3 separate regions of the Homo sapiens genome follow, and regions 2 and 3 are each linked to region 1. The links come from fine-mapping of genetic effects on gene expression. A gene starts in region 1. Each other region holds a variant in brackets. All regions are shown on one strand. Distances are from middle to middle. Region 1 holds the start of TRPM4 (transient receptor potential cation channel subfamily M member 4). Region 2 overlaps TRPM4 (transient receptor potential cation channel subfamily M member 4). Region 3 overlaps TRPM4 (transient receptor potential cation channel subfamily M member 4).

Evidence for each region.
Region 2: its variant is fine-mapped to the expression of TRPM4 in fibroblasts (GTEx, PIP above 0.99). The same link has a PIP of 0.9 or more in esophagus mucosa, lung, nasal epithelium, sun-exposed skin and unexposed skin.
Region 3: its variant is fine-mapped to the expression of TRPM4 in blood mononuclear cells (TOPMed, PIP above 0.99). The same link has a PIP of 0.9 or more in monocytes and whole blood.

The regions. Positions count from the first base shown.
Region 1 is chr19:49,154,691-49,165,362 of GRCh38, forward strand. TRPM4 (transient receptor potential cation channel subfamily M member 4) reads left to right here and starts at 3,102. Exons shown (of 25, transcript NM_017636.4): 1 at 3,102-3,200; 2 at 3,502-3,569. The coding sequence starts at 3,177. It overlaps HRC (histidine rich calcium binding protein), which reads right to left and starts at 706. Exons shown (of 6, transcript NM_002152.3): 1 at 1-706. The coding sequence starts at 547. RefSeq lists enhancers at 2,836-3,457, 10,637-10,672 and a silencer at 4,141-4,327.
Region 2 is chr19:49,176,122-49,186,793 of GRCh38, forward strand. It overlaps TRPM4 (transient receptor potential cation channel subfamily M member 4), which reads left to right. Exons shown (of 25, transcript NM_017636.4): 10 at 5,228-5,340; 11 at 6,457-6,801; 12 at 6,957-7,091. Among named protein-coding and RNA genes, the nearest start is that of TRPM4, 24 kb to the left of the region's middle. The variant T/A (reference allele first, on the strand shown) is at 5,208.
Region 3 is chr19:49,196,708-49,201,903 of GRCh38, forward strand. It overlaps TRPM4 (transient receptor potential cation channel subfamily M member 4), which reads left to right. Exons shown (of 25, transcript NM_017636.4): 17 at 1-167; 18 at 3,593-3,725; 19 at 3,904-4,078. Among named protein-coding and RNA genes, the nearest start is that of TRPM4, 42 kb to the left of the region's middle. RefSeq lists a silencer at 52-378. The variant G/A (reference allele first, on the strand shown) is at 2,016.

The sequences.
Region 1 (10,672 bases):
GGTGTCCATGCCTGAGGATATGATGGTGATGCTCACTGGACACAACTTCATCCTCATCCTCGTCTTGATGGCTGTGGCTCCTGTGGCTGGGGAGGTGGTGCCTGTGCTCAGCTGAGTCTTCCGTGTCTTCACTCCCGTGGCCTCTGTGCCCACGGGCCTGCCCACCATGCTCTGCAAAGACCTCCTCACCTGAGACACCCTCATCTCCGACTTTGTGGTCTTGGGACCTGTGGCCTGGGAGTAGGTGCCCATATTCCTTGGAGACATCTTCATCCTCCTTTTCACGGTCTGGGTGGCTCCAGAAATGATGCCCATTCTCTGTGGAAACATCCTTGTTCTCATCTGGATGGTCTCTAGGGCTGTGGAGGTGGTGGCGAAGCTCTGCTGATGCCTCCTCGGAGAGCCCGGCGACTCCAGTGCTGTTGTTCCGGTTTCTGAAGCCTAGCCCATCCCCTCTGAGCTGCTGGGTCATGGCCGGGGGGAGGAGCAGGCTGGCCACCCCAGCCCAGAGGACAGAAGCGTGCAGCCATGGCCTATGGTGGCCCATGGGGACGGACAGGCAGCACTGGCTCCAGCTGCCTCTGCGGCAATGTGGACAAACGTTGGGGTCTTTGTCCCTTTGGGGTTGGTCTCTTTTTTTCTCTGTGTCTCTCCTTTGTCCTTTCGGTCTCTGTCCACCTTCCTCTGGTCCTTGCTGCCTGGCTCTGGACACCCCTCTGAGGCTGTCTCCGGAGCCCCCTGACCCCCCTCTGGGGCCCTCCCTCCCCATTCCCCAGCCAATAGGGTCCTTCCCCTCCCCTCTCTCCAGCTAAATTTACTCTCAGCCCTGAGTTATTCTGGGTCAGTCCCCGCCTGCCTGCCTCCTGCTCCTCCTCCTCCCAGCTGGGGAGGGGACCAGTGAGGGGTCTCTCCCTGGCCAGGAGACGGTGGCCAAGGGACTTGACTTTGAACTACCAACAAGCTCACGTTTGGCAGCTGCAAAGACAAAGGCTAGACTTTTAGCAGGTTTTTGGGGGAGCCTGGGGCACCTGGGGGAGGCAGAAGAGACTTATCAGAGGGGAGAGACTCCTGGGACGGAAGGACTGGGGGTTCGATTGCGGGGTGTTTCCAGCTGGAATGATACGTGCTGGTGAGAGAGTGATGTCAGTATTGAGGCCCTAGAATGGGGGGAAAGGAACATGGCCCCCAACACACGTGCCCATGACCTCCTGTCCCTGGAACTCAGATCTGGGGGCAGGGACTGGGCTAGGCCAGGGCTATAAATACAGCTGGGAGGGGTAGGGGGACTCAGGTTACGGAGGCCACAGCTGTCCCCATCACAGAGGGCTGGCAGGAGACAAGTGGCCTTGCCCGTCTCTGTGTGTCAGTATTTCCTACTCCTCACCCTTCATGACTGCCCCCACTAGGGTCTCCTTTCCTGTTCACGGGTCCTCCTCTCTCTTCAATTCTGTCATCTGCTCTCTCAGGGTCCCTGTCCCTCCTCCATGGGATTGCCTCTCCCTCTCACTCTGGGCTTCTGTCCCACTCTTATCTTAGTGTCAGTCCTCCCCCAAGTCTGTGTCCCTCTCTCTCCCCTAAATCTCTGGCCCCTCCTTTCTGAGTTCCTGCCCTTCCCCCAATTCTTTGGTTTTTGCATCCCCCTCTGCCCCTTGCCTCAGTCAAGGTGTCTCCTCCCCATCTCTGGCATCCACCTCTCTGGGTCTCTGTCCCCACTCTCTCTCAGAGTCTCTGTCCCCCTCTGTCTCAGAGTCTCTGTCCACCTCTCCCTGGGTCTCTGTCCCCCTCTCTCTGGGTCTCTGTCCCCCTCTCCCTGGGTCTCTGTCCCCCTCTCTCTGTGGATCTCTGTCCCCCTCTCTCTGGGTCTCTGTTCCCCTCTCTCTGTGGGTCTCTGTCCCCCTCTCTCTGTGGATCTCTGTCCCCCTCTCTCTGGGTCTCTGTTCCCCTCTCTCTGTGGGTCTCTGTCCCCCTCTCTCTCTGGGTCTCTGTTCCCCTCTCTCTGGGTCTCTGTCCCCCTCTCTCAGGGTCTCTGTCCCCCTCTGTCTCAGAGTCTCTGTCCCCCTCTCTCTGGGTCTCTGTCCCCTCTCCCTGGGTCTCTGTACCCCTCTCCGTGGGTCTCTGTCCCCTCTCCCTGGGTCTCTGTCCCCCCATCCCTGGGTCTCTGTCCCCCCCTCTCTGGGTCTCTGTCCCCCTCTCTCTGGGTCTCTGTCCTCCTCTCTCTCTGGGTCTCTGTTCCCCTCTCTCTGGGTCTCTGTCCCCCTCTCTCTGGGTCTCTGTCCCCGTCTCTCTGGGTCTCTGTCCCCCTCTCTCTGGGTCTCTGTCCTCCTCTCTCTCTGGGTCTCTGTTCCCCTCTCTCTGGGTCTCTGTCCCCCTCTCTCTGGGTCTCTGTCCCCGTCTCTCTGGGTCTCTGTCCCCCTCTCTCTGGGTCTCTGTCCCCCTCTCTCTGGGTCTCTGTCCCCTCTCCCTGGGTCTCTGTCCCCCTCTCCGTGGGTCTCTGTCCCCTCTCCCTGGGTCTCTGTCCCCCCCTCCCTGGGTCTCTGTCCCCCCCTCTCTGGGTCTCTGTCCCCCCCTCTCTGGGTCTCTGTCCTCCTCTCCCTGGGTCTCTGTCCCCCTCTCTCTGTGGGTCTCTGTCCCACTCTCTCTGGGTCTCTGTCCCACTCTCTCTGGGTCTCTGTCCCCTCTCCCTGGGTCTCTGTCCCCCTCTCTCTGTGGGTCTCTGTCCCCCTCTCTCTCTGTCTATCCCTGGGTCCCTGCTGCCCCACCTTCTGATTCTCTGTCCCCTAAGTCTTTGTCTCCCCCTCTTTGGGTTAAATTGTCCCCTCCCTGTCTGGCATCCTCCTTTCTGAGTCTGTTCCCTCTCCGCCACTGGCCCCCAACTCCTTCTGTTCCCATCTCGCGCTTGCCCTTGGAGTCTCCCCTGTGTGTCTCTCTCCCCCCGGCCCGGACCTCTGCACCCCCCAGGTCGCTGTCCCTCTGTCCCCTTATCGCGGCCTGGGACCCGCCCTCTCCCCGCCTCCCGCTTTGGCGTCTCCAAGACTCCCCGCCCCCCAGACCTCGCCCCGCCCCAGGCTAGGCTGGAAAGTGGAGGATCCGGTTTGCTCTGGGCGGGTCTGGAAGCAGAGCCGGCGGAGGGAGCGCCGGGGCCCTGGGCTGCAGGAGGTTGCGGCGGCCGCGGCAGCATGGTGGTGCCGGAGAAGGAGCAGGTGAGCGCCGGACCAGGGTCTGCGGGAGCGCGGAGCTGGGGACCTCGCCTCCAGGCTCCCAGAGAGGAGGGCGCTGGACACCCAGATTCCTGGGTCAGACGGAGGAGGGGGATGGGAGGGTCCAGGTTCCAGGGTCCAGGGCATGGGGGTCGAGACTCCTGAGTCTGGAGCGGGAGGGCGCTGGGGGCCCGGACTCCTGTGTCCGTGGGGAGCGCACGGGGTGGGTGGCTCTGTGTCCCATAGGACAGAACTGGGTGCCCTCTCACCCCACTTCCACCCCTACATTTGTTCCTGTCCCCAGAGCTGGATCCCCAAGATCTTCAAGAAGAAGACCTGCACGACGTTCATAGTTGACTCCACAGATCCGGGGTGAGGAGTTCGCCCCTGGACTGACCCCAGAGGGTCCGCGGCCCGCTGACCCCGCCCGCGGATGGTCACGCCCCAGCCCTGCTCCTTCCCCATTCCTGGACTCGGGGACCTTCCCAAGGGCGTTCCTTGCCGACGCTCTCCCTCTAGGAGCGTTTGGGTCTGTGTAGACACCCCTCATTCCCCATTCGCCATTCTCCCGCTCAGGGTCAGTGTAGACGCTCCAGGGCTCGGTTCTGCTTCTTTCCTCCCCGATGTCTCTTCTATGTGCTTCTGTCTCTTCGTGTCACTTTCTGTGTCTCTGTCTTTCCCTTTTGGGTATTTCTGTTTCATTCATTCATTCATTCATTCATTCATTCATTCATCCATCCATGCAAGAAACCCTCACTCAGCGCTCCCAAGGTCCCTTTAGCCTAATTCAACGGCCCTGCCAGGGTTCCAATTTCCCCTGGGACACGTGCTGTGTGGCTTCGGGCAAATCATTTCACCTCTCTGGGTCCCGTTTCTCATCTGGGCATCAAAAGAGGCTTGATCTCCTGGGGTTATTATGAGAATTAAACAAGTTAATGCTTGTGATATTCCTGGCACAGCGCCCAGCACAGGACGCTGGGAAATATCTGCAGCTCCCACTGGGAGGTGGCAATTATTACCGCGGGCGGGCCCTGTCTTGGTGGCCGGGGACACCAATTGAGCTAGATAGGGTGTGTGCGTCCGCGAGGAGCTCCCGCCCTTCAGTGACGGCCTCTCAAGCGGATCCAGGCTTTCTAGTTTTTTTTTTTTTTTTTTTTTTTTTGAGACGGTGTCTCGCTCTGTCCCCCAGGCTGGAGTGCAGTGGCGCGATCTCGGCTCACTGCAAGCTCCGCCTCCCGGGTTCACGCCGTTTTCCTGCCTCAGCCTCCCGAGTAGCTGGGACTACAGGCGCCCGCCACCACGCCCGGCTAATTTTTTGTATTTTAGTAGAGACGGGGTTTCACCGTGTTGGCCAGGATGATCTCGATCTCCTGACCTTGTGATCCGCCCGCCTCAGCCCCTCAAAGTACTGGGATTACAGGCGTGAGCCATCGCGCTGGGCCAATTTTTTGTATTTTTTTTTTAGTAGAGACGGGGTTGCACCGTGTTAGCCAGATGGTCTCGATCTCCTGACCTCATGATCCGCCGGCCTCGGCCTCCCAAAGCGCTAGGATTACAGGTGTGAGCCACCGCACCTGGCCCAGGCTTTCTAGTTTTTTGTTTTTTGTTTTTTTGAGACAGAGTCTGGCTCTGTCGCCCAGGCTGGAGTGCAGTGTTGCGATATCAGCTCACTGCAACATCCACCTCCTGGGTTCAAGCAGTTCTCATGCCTCAGCCTCCCTAGTAGCTGGGATTACAGGTGCCTACCACCATGCCCAGCTAATTTTTTGTATTTTAGTAGAGACGGGATTTCACCCTGTTGCCCAGGTTGGTCTTGAACTCTTGATCTCAGGCAATGCACCTGCCTTGGCTTTCCAAAGTACTGGGATTACAGGTGTGAGCCACCGCGCCCAGCCCTCTAGTTGTTTTTCAAGACAGTTTTTGGGGTGCGGGAAGTATCCACATTCCTACTTCAGTGTGTATTTTGTTATGACTATATATTAGTGCAGTATGGCTTGTAAATGATGGATAAATAAACAGATATGCGCTTGTTGGACGTGAGTGCTCAAAACCTTTTTACTGATAGGTCAGTGTGGTCAAGACAATTTAGGAAACTCTGGTCTGGCCTGAGGAGGAAGAAACGCAGAAGATAATTATAGTAAGGCAAGGGGTTGCAGCTCCCAAAGACGAGCCACTGGGCTCTGTGAGAGCTGGGAGGAGGTGTTTGCTTAAGACTGGGAGGGGACACAAAATGTCACTAATGGTTTCTGGAGGGAGGAAGAGTGGCTAGTGAGGTGACATTTGAAAGTGAGCTGGAGAGAGGCCCATGGAAAGCGATTTGGGGCCGGGCATTGTGGCTCACGCCTGTCATCCCAACAATCTGGGAGGCCGAGGCGGGTGGATCACCTAAGTCAGGAGTTCGAGACCAGCTTGGCTAACATGGTGCAACCCTATCTCTACTAAAAATACAAAAATTAACTGGGCGTATTGGCGCATGCCTGTAATCCCAGCTACTCAGGAGGCAGGAGAATCACTTAAACCTGGGAGACGGAGGCTACTATGAGCAGAGATCACGTCACTGCACTCCAGCCTGGGTGACAGAGCAAGACTCCATCTCAAAAAAAAAAAAAAAAAGAAAGAAAGAAAGAAAAAAGTGATTTGAACAGCATGTGCAAAGTCCTTGCTAAGGACCATATGGTTTGGCTTGAATATGAATCAAAGTTCAGGGTGCAGGGAGCACTGTCATGAGAGAAGAGGCTGCAGAGGAGGGCAGGGCCAGAGCTTGCAGGGTGTCAGAGGCCACCCTAAGGGGCTGGGATCTTGTCCTTGGGAGCTGGGGCATCACCGCAGCAGTGGGGTTGGCTCTGGGTGTGGAAAAACTTTCTGGGGCTGGGAGAGGATGAACAGGAGCTCGGGAGGAGGCTGTAGAGAGCGTCTGAGCGGGAGGGGTAGTGGCCTGAGCCAGGTCAGGGCTTTCGGGACACAGAGAGGAGGGCATGGGGCAAAGACTCAGGGGGCAGGAAGGCAGAGCTTGGGGCTTGATGAGGGTGATGAGGGAGAGAGGGGGTGCCGCCATCGGTGGATGGCTCCGGGACGTATGCTCTGCTGACTGGGACACAGTGGGGCTGTCCCTGAGATGGAGAGCTCAGGAGGGCAAGCAGGTTTGGGAAATGTCGCTGAGTGCAATGTGGGAATCTGTGCATATGAGCGGCCTAGGGGGACCGAGGGGCATGTGGGGACTGAGATTGGGAAAGGTCTGGACTAATGTCCAGAATCTGAGAGGTCCGAGTTGTAGCTGGTAATTGAAACTGGAAGTAGGTAAGACGTCACAGGGAAAACAACGTGTAAAGTCAGGGGAGTTGCAAACTGGCAATTCTATAGCCAATTGTGTGCGTGTGTTTGTGTGTGTGTGTGTTTAGAAGAGCATTTAAAAATATCTGTCTTCTGTCTCTCTCTCTTTTTTTTTTTTTTTTTTTTTTGAGACAGGGTCTTGCTCTGTTGTCCAGGCTGGAGTGGCACGATCATGGTTCACTGCAGCCTTGACCTGCTGGGCTCAAGCGATCCTCCCACATGAGCCTCCGGAGTAGCTGGGACCACAGGCATGCACCACCATGCCTGGCTAATTTTAAAATTTTTTGTAGAAACCGGGTCTCCCTTTGATACCAGACCAGGCTGGTATCCAACTCCTGGACTCAAGTGAGCCTCCCACCTCACTCTGCCTGCCAAAGTGCTGGAATTACAGGCGAGAGCCACCATACCCGGCTACCTCTTTTTTTTTTTTGAGACGGAGTCTCGCTCTATCACCCAGGCTGGAGTGCAGTAGTGCGATCTCGGCTCACTTCAACCTCTGCCTCCTGGGTTCAAGCGATTCTCCTGCCTCAGCCCCCCGAGTAGCTGGGATTACAGGCACCCACCATCACGCCTGGCTAATTTTTGTACTTTTAGTAGAGACAAGGTTTCACCATGTTGGCCAGGCTGATCTCGAACTCCTGACCTCAAGTGATCTGCCCACCTGGGCCTCCCAACGTGCTGGGATTACAGGTGTGAGCCACTGCTCCTGGCCCTGGCTACTTCTTTCTGTTGAGTTACTTGACTGGCCTCTGCACACATTGGGTTTGAGAATCATGTAGGGAAGGCTTGCACTGGGAACACCTACACTCAAGGGAGGTGAAAAGCAAGAGAAAGCCACAAACAAGTCAGGCATGAAGCAGCCGGGGCGGGGAGGAAGGCCAGAGGGGCAGGGGTATCCTGCCAAGGAGAGGGTTTCCAGAATGAGAGCCTTTCAGCTGTAGCCAGGGCCACTTGTGATACAGTCAGATGAAACCTGAATAAGGGCCGTTGTATATGGAGCCAGGCAGGAAATTGATGATTTTTATCAAGAACAATTTCAGGCCAGGCACAGTGACTCACAGCTGTAATCCCAGCAGTTTGAGAGGCCGAGGTGGGCTGATCACTTGAGGTCAGGAGTTTGAGACCAGCCTGGCCAATGTGGTAAAACCCCATCTCTACTAAAAATACAAAAACTAGCCAGGTACTGTGGCACATGCCTGTAATCCCAGCTACTCAGGATGCTGAGGCACGAGAGTCGCTTGAGCCCAGGTGGCAGAGGTTGCAGTGAGCTGAGATCGTACCACTGCATTCTAGCCTGGGAGACAGAGCGAGACTCCATCTCAAAACAAAACAAAACAAACAAACAAACAAAAAAACAATTTATTTCAGTTTCTGTGGCTCCACCGAGGAAAGAGTGTAGGAGGCAAGCTGTGCAGAAGGAATGGCTCCTAGCACTGAATGTCAGAATTTTCCACGATTTTGGAAACGTTCTATGTCTACATCCAATATGGCAGTCCTGGCCACAGGGGGCTACTGGGCACTTGGAATATGGCCATTGTACCTGAGAAACTGAATTTTTTTTTGAGGTGGAGTCTCGCTCTGTCGCCCAGGCTGGAGTGCAGTGGTGCAATCTTGGCTCACTGCAACCTCCGCCTCCCGGGTTCATGCCATTCTCCTGCCTCAGCCTCCCGAGTAGCTGGGACTACAGGCACCCGCCACCATGCCAAGCTGATTTTTGTATTTTTAGTAGAAACAGGGTTTCACCATGTTGGCCAGGCTGGTCTCAAAGTCCTGACCTCAGGTGATCCGCCCACCTTGGCCTCCCTAAGTTCTGGGATTACAGGCATGAACCACTGCACTTGACCTGAATTTTTTATTTGATTTAATTTTAACTTATTAGAACAGAAAGAGCTCCATGGCTACAAAGAACCCATGCAGCTATCACATTGGACAGTACAAGCTCCAGACTATTCCGTGAAGAGCTTTTATTTTATTATTATTATTTTTTTTTTTTTTTGAGGCAGAGTCTCATTCTGTTGCCCAGGCTGGAGTGCAGTGGCACAATCTCTGCTCATCACAACCTCCGTCTCCCAGGTTCAAGTGATTCTCCTGCCTCAGCCTCCTGAGTAGCTGGGACTACAGGCGCGTACCACCATGCCCGGCTAATTTTTGTATTTTTAGTAGAGATAAGGTTTCACTATGTTGGCCAGGCTGGTCTCGAACTCCTGACCTCATGATCCGCCCGCCTTGGCCTCCCAAAGTGCTGGGATTACAGTCATGAGCCACCATGCCCGGCCTTATTTCTTATTTTTAGTGACATGGTCTTGCTCTGTTGCCTAGCCTGAACTGCAGTGGTGTGATCATGGCTTATTGCAGCCTTGAACTCCTGAGCTCAAGTGATCCTCCTGCTACAGCCTCCTGAGTAGCTGGAACCACAGGCGTGCACCACCACACCTGGCTAATTAAAACAATTTTTTTTGTAGGGATGGGGTCTCGCTCTATTGCCCAGGCTGTTCTCAAACTCCTGGGCTCAAGCAGTCCTTCTGCCTTGACCTCCCAAAGTGCTTGGATTGTGCCCAGCCGTCCTTGAAGTTTTGCTCAGAAGAGCAAACTTTCTGGGAAGTAGCTGCAGGTGTTGGAAGTAGCTGCAGGGGAACTAGGGGATTCAAGGATGGAGCTGAAATGGGTGAACGGACAAAGTCGGTAAACTGAGGCATGCCAGGGCCCTGGAGGTAGACTCAGGAATGAAGAAGACACTTTATTGTAGTTCTCACTGTGCCAGGACCTGGCCTAAGTGTGTTTGGTTCATCCCATGTGTGGATCAGTTAGCCGTTCTTTTAGTGTCTTTACGGCTTTTGCCAAATCCTTGTAGCACCTCTGCTATCCCTTCTGTAAAATTGCTCTTAAATCTGCTCACTAGGTTTGTGTAAATACAGGTCTCCCCTGATATCTGAACTCCTGGAATCTGGAACAAAGAATTTAGATACATTTTTCTCCTTCTTTCTTCCTTTCTCTTTCTTTTCTTTTCTTTTCTCTCTCTCTTTCTTTCTTTCTCTCTTTCTCTTTCTTTCTCTCTCTTTCCCTCCCTCCCTCCCTCCCTTCCTTCCTTCCTTCCTTTCCTTCCTCCCTCTCTGTCTCTCTCCCTCCCTCCTTCCTTTCTTTCCTTAGTTTTTTTTTTTTTTTTTTTTTTTTTTTTTTTTTTGAGATGGAGTTTCGCTCTTGTCTCCCAGGCTGGAGTACAATAGTGTGATGGCTCACTGCAACTTCTGCCTCCTGGGTTCAACCAATTCTCCTGCCTCAGCCTTCTGAGTAGCTGGGATTACAGGCACCCGCCACCACGACCAGCTAATTTTTGTATTTTTTTTAGTACAGACAGTGTTTCACCATGTTGGCCAGTCTGGTCTCAAACTCTTGACCTCAGATGATCCACCCGCCTCAGCCTCCCAAAGTGCTGGGATTACAGGCATGAGCCACTGCGCCCGGCCTCTTGCTTGCTTGCTTGCTTGCTTGCTTGCTTGCTTGCTTGCTTTTCTTTCCTTCTTTTCTTTTTTTTGAACAGGGTCTCACTCTGTTGCCCAGGTTGGAGTGCAGTGGCGTGGTCACAGCTCTCTGCATCACTGCAGCCTTGATCTCCCAGGCTGAAGTGATCCTCCTGCCTCAGCCTCCTAAGCACATGCTGCCACACCTGGCTAATTTTATTTTATTTTATTTTATTTATTTATTTATTTTTAGAGACAGGGTCTGACTATATTGCACAGCTGGTCTCGAACTCCTGGGTTCAGGTGATCCTCTGGCCCCAGCCTCCCAAAGTGCTAGGATTACAGGCATGAGCCATCATACCCGACCCTACATTTTCAAATGAATTTCTCATTCTCCAAACCCCTGTTACTTACTCAGGTGCCAATCACCTTTAGAAAGCAAGAGAGACTTGTGCATTTCTTTAGGTGGGGGAAAGTTTTATATGTGGAAACTTTCCAAATGGAAACCTGTTCCATTTGGCACAGAGAGGAAGAAACAAGCCACACAGAAGCCAAAGACAATGAAAAGCAAACAAAGGTGTTTCCCTACTCGCTAGATGGCTGTTGCCAGCTCCATTTTTTGAGCCCGAGGCCTGCTTTTCTTGTTCAAAAGAGTAGCAAAGGGTTAGGCATTCAAAAATATTCTAG
Region 2 (10,672 bases), 21 kb after region 1:
CCATGTTGGCCAGGCTGGTTTTGAACTCCTGACCTCAGGTGATCCACCCGCCTCGGCCTCCCAAAGTACTTGGATTACAGGTGTGAGCCACCGCGCCCGGCCTTAATTCATTTTTAGGTATTTTTTGAGACAGTCTCACTCTGTTGTCCAGGCTGGAGTGCAGTGGGACAATCATAGCTCACTGCAGCCTTGAGATCCTGGGCTCAAGTGATTCTCTCGCATCAGCCTCTGAGTAGCTGTGCGCCACCACACCAGGCTAATTTATTTTTAATTTTTTTATAGGGATAGGGTCTCCCTATGTTGCCTGGGCTGGTCTTGAACTCTTGGGCTGAAGAGATCCTCCTGCCTTGACCTCCCAAAGTGCTAGGTATAGTACAGGCTGTGGTAGGGTAGAAAGAGCAAGTTATTTTTGCTTTGGAATCAGACAAAACTGAATTTAAATACCAGCTTGGGCCGGGTACAGTGGCTCACGCCTATAATCCCAACATTTTGGGAGGCTGAGGTAGGATCACTTGAGGTCAGGAGTTCGAGATCAGCCTGGCCACCATGGCAAAACCCTGTCTCTACTGAAAATACAAAAATTAGCTGGCGTGGTGGCGGGTGCCTGTAATCCCAACTAGTTGGGAGGCTGAGGCAGGAGAATCGCTTGAACCCAGGAGGTGGAGGTTGCCGTGAGCCAAGATCGTGCCACTGCACTCCAGCCTGGGCGACAGAGCGAGACTCTGTCTCAAAAACAAACAATCAAAAAGAAACAAACCAGCTTGGCCCTTTCTTGCTGTGTGGTCTTGAGGAAGCAGCTTCCCCTCTCTGAGCCCCAGTTTCTCTCTGTGGAAAGTGGAGATAATATCTTACAGGAGTGTTATAAGCCTCCATGGCAAGGTATGAGTTGTGCCCGGTCCCGGTGGGGGCCCAATAAGAGGGATCTCCTCTTAATATGATTCCATTTCCTCTGGGGGTACATCCTTCAATATAAGGTAACTCTCAGTGGGCAAATCTGATTCACTCTGCGGAAGTTAACTCAGCAGCCTCCTGGGAGAAAATACGGCAGCTCTGCAAGATGTGGTTTGAGGGGGTGGTGTTGTAAGCCCAGCAGGAGTGGAAGTGATCACAGTCCACTGGGGGAACTGGAGATGGCTGATAGGCTTGGGGATAGCAGAGTTGAATGGATGGAATTTCAGCAAGAAAGAAGGGCAAGGTCATGAATGCGTCTTTTTTTTTTTTTTTTTTTTTTGAGACAGTGTCTCGCTCTGTCGCCCAGGCTGGAGTGCAGTGGTGTGATCTCAGCTCACTGCAACCCCCGGGTTCAAGCGATTGTCCTGCCTCAGCCTCCCGAGAAGCTGGGACTACAGGCACCTGCCACTATGCCTGGCTAATGTTTGTATTTTTAGTAGAGATGGGGTTTCACCATGTTGGCCAGGATGGTCTCGACCTTCTGACCTCGTGATCTGCCTGCCTCGGCCTCCCAAAGTGCTGGGATTACAGGTGTGAGCCACCACCCCTGGCCCATGAATCCTTCCTAAGAGTCTAGCATAGGCAGGCCCAGTGCTGGGCAGTTGGTGTACTCTTTTGCCCTTCATCTCCCTTCCCTGCCTGCAAGGATTATCACCCCATTTTGCAGATGAAGAGACTGAGGCTCAGAGAGAGGAAAAATGGCTTGCCCAGGGTCATCCAGCTAGTAGCAGGGGTCAGGCTTTTCATGTGAGTCTGTATAATTCTCAAGCCCATTGCAAGGGGCATGTTTGGAGAGAGGTCAGAGGCTCGCAGGGTTGGTATGTATCATTGGCATGAAGGGAGTGTTGGAGACAAGGCCAGTGAGGCAGGTAGGGCCAAACCACCCAGGACCTCAAATGCCAGGCAGAGGGGCTAAGGCTGTCCTTGAGAGGCAGCAGAGGACCAGGGTCCGTTATGTGGATAAAAAAGACTCTCTGGCCAAGCGTGAAGGCTCATGCCTATTATCACAGCACCTTGGAAGACTAAGGAAGGAGGTTCGCTTGAGCCCAGGAGTTTGAGACCAGCCTGGGCAGCATAGTGAGACCCCATGTCTATAAAAAATTAGCTGGGTATGGTACTGTGCGCCTGTAGTCCCAGCTACTCGGGAGGCTGAGGCAGGAGGATCGCTTGAGCCTGGGAGGTCTCAAAGCTGAAGTGAGCTGTGATGGCGCCACTGCACTCCAGACTGGGTGACAGACGAAGACCCTGTCTCAAAAAACAAAAACAGACTCTCTGGGAGTGGGTGGGGGCAGAGTGGAGAGGAGAGAAGAGACTGCAGTGATGGTGTTTGGGGGTGCCGAAGCTTGAGCTATAGCTGGGGCCAGGAGGACAGTCGGGGAGGCTCAGCAGAGAGTCAGGAGGCTGGACGTGGGACATGAAGCTTGGGGGCTGATGGCCTGTGAGATGGGAGGAGCAGGAAGGGACAAGGACAGTACCTGCGGGTCTGCCTTATTGATTGGGTGGACAGAGGGGCCATTCCTGAGATGAGGACGTAGGGAAGATGGGTTTGAGGGCTAGATGCTGAGTTGAGTATGGAACACGGTGAGTCTGAAGGGACAAGGTGGGGCCAGGGTCGAGTGCCCAGGTGACAAATGGTGCCAGATTAAGGCGGAATATAAAGCAAGGTATTATTATTATTATTATTTTTATTTTTTTATTTTTTTTGAGATGGAGTCTTGCTCTGTCGTCCAGGCTGGAGTGCAGTGGCACGATCTTGGCTCACTACAAGCTCCACCTCCCAGGTTCATGCCATCCTCCTGCCTCAGCCTCCTGAGTAGCTGGCACTACAGGCGCCCGCCACCATGCCCGGCTAATTTTTTGTATATTTAGTAGAGATGGGGTTTCACTGTGTTAACCAGGGTGGTCTCGATCTCTTGACCTCATGATCCACCCATCTCGGCCTCCCAAAGTGCTGGGATTACAGGTGTGAGCCACTGTGCCCGGCCTATTATTATTATTTTTGCAACAGAGTTTCGCTCTGTTGCCCAGGCTGGAGTGCAATGGCGTGATCTTGGCTCACTGCAACCTCCACCTCCCGGGTTCAAGCGATTTTCCTGCCTCAGCCTCCCAAGTAGCTGGGATTACAGGCATGAGCCACCACGCCCAGCTAATTTTGTATTTTTAGCAGAGACGAGGTTTCTCCATGTTGGTCAGGCTGGTCTCGAACTCCTGACCTCAGGTGATTCGCCCACCTCGGCCTCCCAAGGTGTTGGGATTACAGGCATGAGCCACAGCATCCAGCCTATTATTATTATTTGAGACGGAGTCTCCCTTTCTCACCCAGGCTGGAATGCAGTGACGTGATCTCGGCTCACTGCAACCTCCACCTCCCGGGTTCAAGCGATTCTCCTGCTCAGCCTCCCAAGTAGCTGGGACTACAGACGCATGCCACCATGCCCAGCTAATTTTTTGTATTTTAGTAGAGATGGGGTTTCACCGTGTTACCCAGGCTGGTCTCGAACTCCTGAGCTCAGGCGATCCGCCCATCTTGGCCTCCCAAAGTGCTGGGATTACAGGCGTGAGCCACGGCGCCCGGCCTGTAAAGCAAGATATTATGAACAATTTTGTTTCCTTCTTTTGAAACTGTGGGGAAAGTAGGAGAGCTTCATAGAATCGTAGAAAGTCGTGGAAAAGTCCGCTCTGAATGGACGTCTGGGTTTTGAAAGAGCACAGAAAGCCATGAGGTCCTAGACATGTTACTGCCTTTCTGGGCCTCTGTTTCCTCAAGCACAGCCTTGGAGGTTACACTGGCCAAGCTGTAGTGTCGCCACAGCGTGGAACTTCTTCCCACAGTTACTGTAATTGATTACAGTGCTATGAAGGGGGTGCCACTATTTCCCATTTAATAGATGAGGAAACTGAGGCTCCCAAGGTTCAATGGCTTGCCTGAAGTCACTCAGTTGGTACTGGTGGACCGGGGACTGGAACCCACGTCTGCCTGCCCCAGAGCCTATTGCTCACCTCCACTACATGAGATTATCTCTTTCTGTGGTACCAGTTTTTGGAGCAACCAAAATGAGATGAATTTGTTTTGGAGATAGATATGGAGCAAGTGGAGGCAGAAGGAAACCTAACTCCATGTCACGACAAATGCCCTTCAGGACTTTTCATGCCCCTGTTGACTGCACATGTTTGGATCCACTACATAGCTGGATCAAATTTTTAAGGGTTTCTGGTTCTCTCTTGCTGTTTCAGTGACCTCCAGGGTCTCTCGGAGTCCCTCTCCTGTTCTCATTTTCTGCTGTTGTCACCTCTTTCCCTTCACAATATACCCCAAGTTTCAGAAATCAGAGTGACTCACGTTTGTCATCATCTGCTGTGTGTGTGTGTGTGTGTGTGTGTGTGTGTGTGTGTGTGTGTGTGTGTTGCACCCGGGCCTTTGCTTCTGCTGTGCCTGCTGCTTTGAACGCCCTTTTCGCACCTTAGGGGCATACCTCCCAGTCCTGGTGGTCTTTCAAAGTGCTACCTCAACACCCATTCTCTGGGAGCTCTCTTGGGCCACTCTATACCTCTGTGACCATATCCTCCTCTGGGCCCTAATCATATTATATGCCTATAGATGCCTCCTTAGACACCCCTCCACCCTGCCTTCCATTATGGCCTGTCCAGCCTTCCCTTTAATCGCCCATCCATCTCTGATTGTCCGTCTGCCCCATCTTGTTTCCTCTCTCCCCATCCATCCGTCTGTCCATCTATCCATCTATCCACCCTGTACATCCATCTATCCATCCATCCGTTCATTCATCCATCTCTTTATCCTTTCATCCATCCATTTATCCATCCCATCCATCCATCCTTCTATCTGTCCATCCATCCATCCTAATCATATTATATGCCTACCTCTGAGGGCACCAAGCACCCTGAGGGTAGTTATGTGTTGGGGGGACATATTTCCCCCAATAGAACCAGCTTCTTCAGGGTAGGAACTGTATCTGATTTCTCTCTCCATCCCTCCCACTGCTTGGTCCATAACATACCTCAATAAATATTAAATGAATAAGTGATTCCTTTTGTTTCTTCTTGGGGGCTGTAAACCAGTGGTCTGTGCTCTGGCCCTGAGCCAAATGACCTTATGCCTATGATAGCCTGACTGCTTTAAGACCCCCACACTCTGCCCAGTAGCAACCCCTTTATGCAGAGTTTAAAAGTCAGACATGCAAAATAGAGGCAAAATAGACATTCAGCAGATGTCCCTCCTCCCCTGACTTCTTGTCCCC[T/A]CTCCCTCTAATCCTTCCAGCCTGTGGGAGCTCGGAGGCCTCAGCCTACCTGGATGAGCTGCGTTTGGCTGTGGCTTGGAACCGCGTGGACATTGCCCAGAGTGAACTCTTTCGGGGGGACATCCAATGGCGGGTGAGGGGTCAGGGCCTGGGGGTTGGGCATACTGACAAAGGGACTGTGCTGTCCTCCCTCTCTGCCTTCTTTTTTTTTTTTTTTTTTTTTGACGGAGTCTCACTCTGTCACCCAGCCTGGAGTGCAGAGGTGTGATCCCAGCTCACTGCAAGCTCCGCCACCTGGGTTCACGCCATTCTCCTGCCTCAGCCTCCCGAGTAGCTGGGACTACAGGCGCCCGCCACCACACCCAGCTAATTTTTTTGTATTTTTAGTAGAGACGGGGTTTCACTATGTTAGCCAGGATGGTCTCGATCTCCTGACCTTGTGATCCGCCCGCCTCAGGCTCCCAAAGTGCTGGGGTTACAGGCATGAGCCACCGCACCCGGCCTCTCTGCCTTCTTAGACGCCCCTCAACCCTGCCTTCCATTATGGCCTGTCCAGCCTTCCCTTAATTGTCCATCCATCTCTGTCCATCTGCCCCATCTTGTTTCCTCTCTCCCCACCCATCCATCTGTCTATCCATCCATCCACCCTGTACCTCCATCTATCCATTCATCCATTCATTCATCCATCTACTTATCCATCCATCCATCCATTTGTCCATCCATCCATTTATCCATCCATCCATCCATCCATCCATCCATCCATCTGTCCATCCATCCATCCATCCATCCATCCATCCATCTGTCCATTCATCCATCCATCCATTCATCTGTCCATCCATCCATCTACCTATCCATTCATCCATACATCCATCCATCTACCTATCCATTCATCCATCCATCCATCCATCTATCCATCCATCCATCTGTCCATCCATTCATCTGTCCATCCATCCATCTACCTATCCGTTCATCCATCCATCCCTCTGTCCATCCATCCATCCCTCTGTCCATCCATCCATCCCTCTGTCCATCCATCCATCCATCCATCCATCCATCCATCCATCTGCCCATCCATCCATCTGTCCATCCATCCATCTACCTATCCATTCATCCATCCATCCACCCATCCATCCATCCATCCATCCATCCATCCATCCATCCATCCATCCATCCGTCCCTCATACCCTTGCCCATCTCTTGTCCTTAACCTTTGAGCTAATCTCTTCCCCTATTCATCCCACCCTGCCAGTCCTTCCATCTCGAAGCTTCCCTCATGGACGCCCTGCTGAATGACCGGCCTGAGTTCGTGCGCTTGCTCATTTCCCACGGCCTCAGCCTGGGCCACTTCCTGACCCCGATGCGCCTGGCCCAACTCTACAGCGCGGCGCCCTCCAACTCGCTCATCCGCAACCTTTTGGACCAGGCGTCCCACAGCGCAGGCACCAAAGCCCCAGCCCTAAAAGGGGGAGCTGCGGAGCTCCGGCCCCCTGACGTGGGGCATGTGCTGAGGATGCTGCTGGGGAAGATGTGCGCGCCGAGGTACCCCTCCGGGGGCGCCTGGGACCCTCACCCAGGCCAGGGCTTCGGGGAGAGCGTAAGGACCGGGCAAAGCTGGGGGGCCCCCCCGCGCGGGAAGGACCTGGGGGCGGGATTACATCAGGGATGGGGCGTGGCCAAACCAGAGGCAGGGCTGGTGGTGGCCAGTGTTGGGGAGGGGCTGGTCCTCACCACCCCTCCTTTTGCTGGCAGATGTATCTGCTCTCGGACAAGGCCACCTCGCCGCTCTCGCTGGATGCTGGCCTCGGGCAGGCCCCCTGGAGCGACCTGCTTCTTTGGGCACTGTTGCTGAACAGGGCACAGATGGCCATGTACTTCTGGGAGATGGTGAGTGCTGACTTGGCGCTCCTGCATCCCTGTCCTTTAGGCCACTGGATGCCAGTGTTCCCGAAACAATTACCATACAATTCCCCGACCCCTGACGTCACCTGACAGGCGCCCCATCCTCCGTCGCTGATATATGCCTCCAACTGCTTCCTCTTTCTTTTCTCTCTCTCACATCATGCATTATTTTATGTGTTTATTTTTTGAGACAGAGTCTCGCTCTGTCGCCCAGGCTGCAGTGCAGTGGCGCAATCTTGGCTTACTGCACCCTCAGTCTCCCGGGTTCAAGTAATTCTCCTGCCTCAGCCTCCGGAGTAGCTGGGATTACAGGCACCTGCCCCCACGCCTGGCTAATTTTTGTTTTGTTTTGTTTTGTTTTAGTAGAGATGGGGTTTCACCATGTTGGCCAGGCTGGACTCCTGACCTCAAGTGATCCACCCGCCTCGGCTTCCCAAAATGCTGGGATTACAGGCATGTGCCACCGTGCCTGGCCAAGATTCTCTCTTTGTTTTGGCCTTTGATAATATATCTCAGTGTGGATCTCTGTGAATTTCTTTTTCTTTTTCTTTTTTTTTTTTTTTTGAGATGGAGTCCTGCTCTGTTGCCCAGGCTGGAGTGCAGTGGCATGATCTCGGCTCACTGCAAGCTCCACCTTCTGGGTTCATGCCATTCTCCTGCCTCAGCCTCCCGAGTAGCTGGGACTACAGGCGCCCGCCACCACGCCCAGCTAATTTTTTGTATTTTTAGTAGAGATGGGGTTTCACCGTGGTCTTGATCTCCTGACCTTGTGATCTGTCTGCCTTGGCCTCCCGAAGTGCTGGGATTACAGGCGTGAGCCACTGTGCTTGGCCTGTGAATTTCTTTTACTTGGAGTTCCTTGAGCTTCCTGGATGTGTAGACTTTTGTCTTTCATCACATTTTGGAAGTTTTTAGGACATTATATCTTCAAATATTATTTCTTTCCCTTTCTGTCTCTCTTTTCCTTTTGGACTCTCATTATGTATGTATTAATATTCTGTATGGTGTCTCGCAAGTCCCTTAGGCTCTGCTTATTTTCCTTCATTTGTTTTTCTTTTTTCTCCTCAGGCTGGATAATCTCAATGTACTTAGCTTCAAATTCACTGATCTTTATTTTGCCTTTTTTATGAATCTACTGTTGAGTCCCTCTAGTGGTTTTTATATTTCAGTTATTGTGCTTTTTAGCTTCAGAGTTTCTATTTGGTTCATTTCTGTCTCTGTAGTCTTTTTTTTTTTTTTTTTTTTTTTTTTGAGACAGAGTCTCGCTCAGTCGCCCAGGCTGGAGTGCAGTGGCTCAATCTCCGCTCACTGCAAGCTCTGCCTCCTGGGTTCACGCCATTCTCCTGCCTCCACGCCATTCTCCTGCCTCAGCCTCCCAAGTAGCTGGGACTACAGGTGCCCGCCACCACGCCCAGCTAATTTTTTTGTATTTTTTTAGAGACAGGGTTTCACTGTGTTAGCCAGGATGGTTGCGATCTCCTGACCTCGTGATCTGCCCTCCTCGGCCTCCCAAAGTGCTGGGATTACAGGCGTGAGCCACTGCGCCCGGCCTCTGTAGTCTGTCTTTTTTTTTTCCTGGTCCCACTACAAAACTTTATTTTTGATTACAGTACCATTCTCAATCTCTTCTACAAAAAGCAGAAAAAAAAGCAGCCACTTCACTCAAGACCTATATACAGATAAGATGTTTTCTGTGTTTTTTTCTTTTTTTTTTAATTTTTATTTTTAAAAAAATAAATTCAGTGTTCACATTTCTATAAAGAATTAACCCAGTTTCAGGAAACCCTGCCTCTATCTCTGTATTCTTATTCTCTAGGTGGTGAGACATCTTTTTCCTGGCTCCCTTTAGTTCTTTTTTCATGATTTCCTTTAGCTCTTCGAGCATATTTAAGACAATTTATTTAAAGCCTTTGCTAGTAAGTTCAGTGTCTGAGTTTCCTCAGGGATAGTTTCTATTCATTTATTTTTTTCCTACTCATTTCTATTCATTTCATTTCTTTTCTTTTATTTATTTATTTGTTGTTCTTGTTGTTGTTGTTGAGACAGAGTCTCATTCTGTCACTCAGACTGGACTGCAGTGGTTTGACCAAAGTTCACTGCAACCTTGACTTCTTGGACTCAAGCAATCCTCCCACCTCAGCCTCCTGAGTAGTTGGGTCTACCAGCCACATGCCAAGCTAATTTTAAAAAATTTGCAGAGATGGGGTCTTACTATGTTGCCCAGGTTGGTCTTGAATTCTTGGGCTCAAGCAATCCTCCTGCCTGGGCCTCCCAAAGTGCTGGGATTACAGGTGTGAGCCACCATGCCTGGTCTCTATTAATTTCTTTTTTTTCCAGTATATGAACCATATTGTCTTGTTTCTTTGCATGCCTCATAATTTTTGGTTGAAAAGTGGAACATTTTGAATATGATAATGTGGCAACTCTGGAAATCAGCTTATGCCCTCCCTCCAGGGTTTGTTGTGGCTGCTGCTCATTGTGGGTCATTGTTGTTTGTTTAGTGACTTTTCTTTTTTCTTTTTCTTTTTTTTGGGGGGAGGGGGGATGGAGTCTCACTCTGTGGCCCAGGCTAGAGTACAGTGGTGCAATCTCGGCTCACTGCAAGCTCCACCTCCCAGGTTTAAGTGATTCTCCTGCCTCAGCCTCCCAAGTAGCTGGGATTACAGGTGTGTGCCACCACACCCAGCTAATTTTTGTATTTTTCATAGAGACGGGGTTTCACCATGTTAGCCAGGCTGGTCTCAAACTCCTGACCTCAGGTGATCCACCCACCTTGGCCTCCCAAAGTGTTAGGATTACAGGCGTGAGCCACCGCGCCCACCCTGTTTAGTGACTTCTCTAAACCTTTTTTGGAAAGTCTGTATTCTTTGCATGTGTGGCCATGGAAGCCCCTCTTCTGTTAGCTTAGTGGTCTGCTGGTGACTTGACAGAGATATCCTTAAATGCCTAGAACCACAGAAGCAAATATAACAAGAAACTCCCTATAAGTGCTGGGATTAGAGGCATGAGCGACGCCCACCGTGGCTGTATATTGAAGCAGTCTTTCAATACTTAGCCAAGCTGTTTACAGTTCTGCTTTAGTCTTCACTTCCTGCTTGTGCAGAGCCTAAAGTTCAGCCAGATGTAAGAGCTTCAGGTTTTCTCTGGTATTTTCTGAGCACGCCTCTAGCCCTAGTCATGCATCTAGCCGTCTGGATTTCCTGGTACACAAGGAAGACTTTCAAAGCCCTTATTCCCTCCAAGTATTTCCTTTCATGGCCTCTTTCTTCCCAAGATGCTTAGTGTATCTATTACTGCCTCTACTGTGAGTCCTTGCCTCAGATGGATGTGGTTAATTCATTTGCCTTTAAAAGATTTTAACAGGCCGGGTGCAGTGGCTCACACCTGTAATCCCAGCACTTTGGGAGGCCGAGGCAGGTGGATCGCCTGAGGTCAGGAGTTCGAGACCAGCCTGACCAACATGGAGAAACCCTATCTCTACTAAAAGCACAAAAAATTAGCCTGGCATGGTGGCGCATATCTGTAATTCCAGCTACTCGGGAGGCTGAGGCAGGAGAATTGCTTGA
Region 3 (5,196 bases), 39 kb after region 1:
GAGGAACTGCGCCAGGGCCTGAGCGGAGGCGGGGGCAGCCTCGCCAGCGGGGGCCCCGGGCCTGGCCATGCCTCACTGAGCCAGCGCCTGCGCCTCTACCTCGCCGACAGCTGGAACCAGTGCGACCTAGTGGCTCTCACCTGCTTCCTCCTGGGCGTGGGCTGCCGGTGAGTGCCCCGGGGCCTTGGAACCCTGGCCCCTGGCCACCTCTCATCCTTCCTGCCCACTCCCGGGGTCTCCACTCCCGGCTTCCCCGCAGCTGGGCAGCAGGTCAAGCCAACCCTGCTGATTGAGAACCCCTCTTAGGAAAGTCGGGCATGACGATTGCCCCAGGGTAATTGGCTGGCACCTGGAGATCTGGCTTCAGGGACGGCAGGATTCAGGAGAAAACCCCACTGTCCGCCACTCAGCCTCTGCTGCTATTTATTGCTAGGCCTGAAGTTTAACAGATATTTATGGGAGCGCCCCGACCTGGGTGCCAACCTCACCTCCTCCCTTCTCTTCCTCCACATAGCTCGTTGGTCCCAGGCCCCTTGCCCTCCTGCCCCCGACTTTTTCTTTCTTTCCTTTTTTTTTCTTTCTTTCTTTCTCTTTCTTTCTTTTTCTTTCTTTCTTTCTTTCTTTCTTTCTTTCTTTCTTTCTTTCTTTCTTTCTTTCTCTCTCTTTCTTTTCTTTCTTTCTCTTTTCTTTTCCTTTCTTTTCTTTTTCTTTTTCTCTTTTCTTTCTCTCTCTCTCCCTCTGTCCTCTGCCCCTCTGCCTCCCTCCCTCCTTCCTTCCTTCCTTCCTTCCTTCCTTCCTTCCTTCCTTCTATGCTTCCTTCCATCCCTCCAAGCTAAGGGTTTAACCCTTGCCCTGCCTGCATTATGGAGTATCCTGCATTAGGATACTCCTCCTTTTGAGGAGAGCAAACAGAAAAGTTTGTGGATACAACCTGGTGACTGGTTTTTTGTTTGTTTGTTTGTTTTTGTTTTCTTTCTTTTCTTTTTTTTTTTTGAGCCAGAGTTCCGCTGTGTCGCCCAGACTGGAGTGCAGTGGTACGATCTTGGCTCACTGCAACCTCCACCTCCTGGGTTCAAGCGATTCTCTTGCCTCAGCCTCGTGAGTAGCTGGGATTACAGGCATGCACCACTACACCTAGCTAAATTTTTTTTGTATTTTTTTTGTAGAGATGGGGCTTTGCCATATTGACCAGGCTGGTCTTGAACTCTTGGCCTCAAGTGATCCACTGGCCTTAGCCTCTGAAAGTGCTGAGATTACAGATGTGGGTCACCGTGCCTGGCCAACAACCTGGTGACTGTTTACAAGGGACCTGACACATCCTGAATGGTTGACAGTGATGACAGTGATGATCCCTACTCAAGCTTTTCCCAGTAGACACGCTGAGAGGCAGGCTTCCTCTAAGCTATGTTAGCAGTGTTACAAAGTGATTCAACATAAATAATTTATTCAAGCAGGGAGCAAGATATGAGAGTTTTGCAGAACACTAATACTTCTGTTTGTAATTTGTTGTATTTTGTATAAAGTGACTTTTGAGATGAAAGGGCTAAGGCCATATGCTACCATGCTCTAGGATTGCCAGTGATATTTTGGACAGTTTATCAAGCCTACCACTTTCCAGGTGAAAAATGGAAAGATCTCAGCTTAAAAGGGAGAAACGGGCCTGGCGTGGTGGCTCATGCCTGTAATCCCAGCACTTTGGGAGGCCGAGGCGGGTGGATCACCTGAGATCAGGAGTTTGAGACCAGCCTGCCCAACATGGTGAAACCCCATCTCTACTAAAAATACAAAAAATTAGCCGGGCATGGTGGCAGGCGCCTGTAATCCCAGCTACTCGGGAGGCTGAGGCAGGATAATTGCCTGAACCTGGGAGGCGGAGGTTGCAGTGAGCCAAGATCATGCCACTGCACTCTAGCCTGGGTGAAAAGAGCAAAACTCTGTCAAAAAAAAAAAAAAAAAAAAAAGGGAGAAATGTCTAATCATCTCCGGAATTGAATGGATGAATCATCCTTTGTTTC[G/A]CCAGTTCCCTCTAGATGGACATTTAGGTTCTCTCTTTCTTTCTTTTTTTGTTTTAAATAGAGACAGGGTCTCACTCTGTTGCCCAGGCTGGTCTCAAACTCCAGGGCTCAAGCAATCCTCCCACCTTGGCCTCTCAAAGTGCTGGGATTACAGGCGTGAGCTACTATGCTCAGCCTTCTGTTTTTTTATTATTCCAAAATAATAAAAGTTTACATCCCAGATGTAAAGTTTATGGGTCAAAGGGTACATTTATTTTTGACATGGATAGATTTCCTTCTAAGTAGCTTCACTCATTTCCACACCTGCCATCAGGGTAAGAGAGTGCCCCCTTGAGGCCATGCTCGACAATGCCTGATACTTTCACTCTAAAATGTAGCTCTCAATTTAACTGAAAAAAAATTTGCCAATTTAATGGGTAAACATGACCTCTCCTTGTTATAATTTATGCACTCTTGACTACCAGATAGGTTGGACATCTTTTCCTAAGCTTAATGGCCATATGTCCTTGTGCCCCCTTGTTTTTTTTTTGGTTTTTGTTTTTGTTTTTGTTTTTGAGACGGAGTCTCGCTCTGTAGCCCAGGCTGGAGTGCAGTGGCGCGATCTCGGCTCACTGCAACCTCCGCCTCCCGGGTTCACGCCATTCTCCTGCCTCAGCCTACTGAGTAGCTGGGACTACAGGTGCCTGCCTCCACGCCCGGCTAATTTTTTGTATTTTGTAGTAGAGACGGGGTTTCACCGTGTTAGCCAAGATGTTCTCGATCTCCTGACCCCGTGATCCGCCCGCCTCGGCCTCCCAAAGTGCTAGGATTACAGGCGTGAGCCACTGCGACCGGCCACCCTCCCGTTTTTTTAATTGGGGTTCATTGATTTGTATATGTATAAATGTATATACTCCTTATACTCTGGATCCTAATCCTCGGTAGTTTTGTTGGTCTTAATATCTTCATATCTTCTCGAAGTCTGTGGCTTGTCTTTTCACTTTCACTTTTGTATGTTTCTTTTCTTTTCTTTTTTTTGAGCCTGCCTCGGCCTCCCAAAGTGCTGGGATTACAGGCGTGAGCCACCGCGTCTGTCCATACACTAGGTTTTTAATCCATCCAAAGTTTAAGTACATGAGGATGCAAAATAGGGGTAGAATTTTTATTTTCCCCATAGGAATTATTGATGTTTACTGGCCGTTTGAACGTCCTCTGTGAATTGTACGTGGTATCCTTTATCTGGCTTCCTTCCTTTTGCGTATTAGTTTGTAAGGACTCTATATGTTTTGCCTTTTATAGGTTGGACAGATATTCCGGCAGTTTTTCCAGCTTGATTCTTACAGGGACCAGCTCTTTGCTAAGGCCATCGTTCATTCAGTCATTACTTAATAGGCGCAGCCATTTTAAAAATGGGTGCCAGGGCCCTGCATGGACCAGCTTGGTACTGAATAAATTTGAGTAAACCCCGGGTGACTGGGAGGGTCCTGGTCCTGCCCGGTGGAGGCTGCAGCTTCCTCTGAAGGATGGCATTGGGAAGACTTCCATTTTCCTTGGCGTCTTGTGACACTTGACCCTTGTGGCATCTCCCCACACCCCAGGCTGACCCCGGGTTTGTACCACCTGGGCCGCACTGTCCTCTGCATCGACTTCATGGTTTTCACGGTGCGGCTGCTTCACATCTTCACGGTCAACAAACAGCTGGGGCCCAAGATCGTCATCGTGAGCAAGATGGTGAGGCAGGGGCGGGGCCAAAGTGGGCGGGGACATAGGGAAAGGGGTGGGGCCAGGGAGGGAGTGGTCCGTGGAGAAGGGGCGTGACTTTGGGGAGCAATGGGGCGTGTTTTTGGGATATAGGGGTGGGGCCAGAGTAGGAAAGGGCGGGGCCAGACTCAGCCACATCTCCCCACAGATGAAGGACGTGTTCTTCTTCCTCTTCTTCCTCGGCGTGTGGCTGGTAGCCTATGGCGTGGCCACGGAGGGGCTCCTGAGGCCACGGGACAGTGACTTCCCAAGTATCCTGCGCCGCGTCTTCTACCGTCCCTACCTGCAGATCTTCGGGCAGATTCCCCAGGAGGACATGGACGGTAGGGGGGATGACGGCCTGACAGCCTTCCTCTGAGTCTCTGTCCCCGCTCCCTGGGTCTCTGTCCTCCTGGCTCTAAGAAAATATCTGTCTCTCTGAGTCTCTGTCTCCCTCTTTCTCTGGATCTCTGAGTGATACCCTATATTCCCCATCATCATCTCTCTGGGTCTCTGCCTACCCCACCCCCTCTGTCTTTCTGTCTGTCTTTCTTTTTTCTTTTTTTTTTTCTTTTTTTTTGAGATGGATGTTAGAAATGTTTATTTTGTGGTGTCGTAAAGAAATAGTACTTGAACATAAATTTAATTTTTTTAGTAAAGCCATTTTTATTTTTTGTAGAAAGGGTACACTCGCCAGCAGTTTTGTCATGAGAGTACACGGAACAAAGGAGATAGGGTCATTTATAACCTGACGCGTCTATTTTACTGCTGTGTCTGGTTTTTATTGGCTGGAACCGGACTTTACATTTTGTATTTGTCTTGATTGGCTAGTAACTTAGAAGTTTTTAAAAGAAGCGAAGGCAGAGGAGAACAAAGGAAGGAGGAAGTAACTTGTGGAATGTTGAGAAAGGTAAAAACACTTTTAAATAAGGAAGAGGAACAGGCTATGATCTAATGCTTGCTTGAACCAGTATAAGTATGTCAGGGCAAATATTTAGGCTAAATTGTGAGAGCTAAGAACATAAAGTACATTGATTTATTTTTTATGGCTAGTAGATATTTAAGAATGTTAGCACAGGTGTTTGAATAAATTTTGTTTCTAAGAGAAGTTACTATTTATTGTTAATTAGATGGGGAGGAAAGTCTTTGAAGAGGAACCTGTACTTTACTTTTTACATGGAGTTTTGCTCTTGTTGCCCAGGCTGGAGTGCAATGGCACGATCTCAGCTCACTGCAACCTCCACCTCCCAGATCGAAGCGATTCTCCTATCTCAGCCTCCCGAGTAGCTGGGACTACAGGCGCGTGCCACCACGCCTGGCTAACAGTTTTGTGTTTTTAGTAGAGATGGGGTTTCATCACATTGGTCAGGCTAGTCTCAAACTCCCCACCTCAGGTGATCCGGCCATCTCAGCCTCCCAAAAGTGCTGGGATTACAGGCGTGAGCCACCGCGCCCGGCAGTC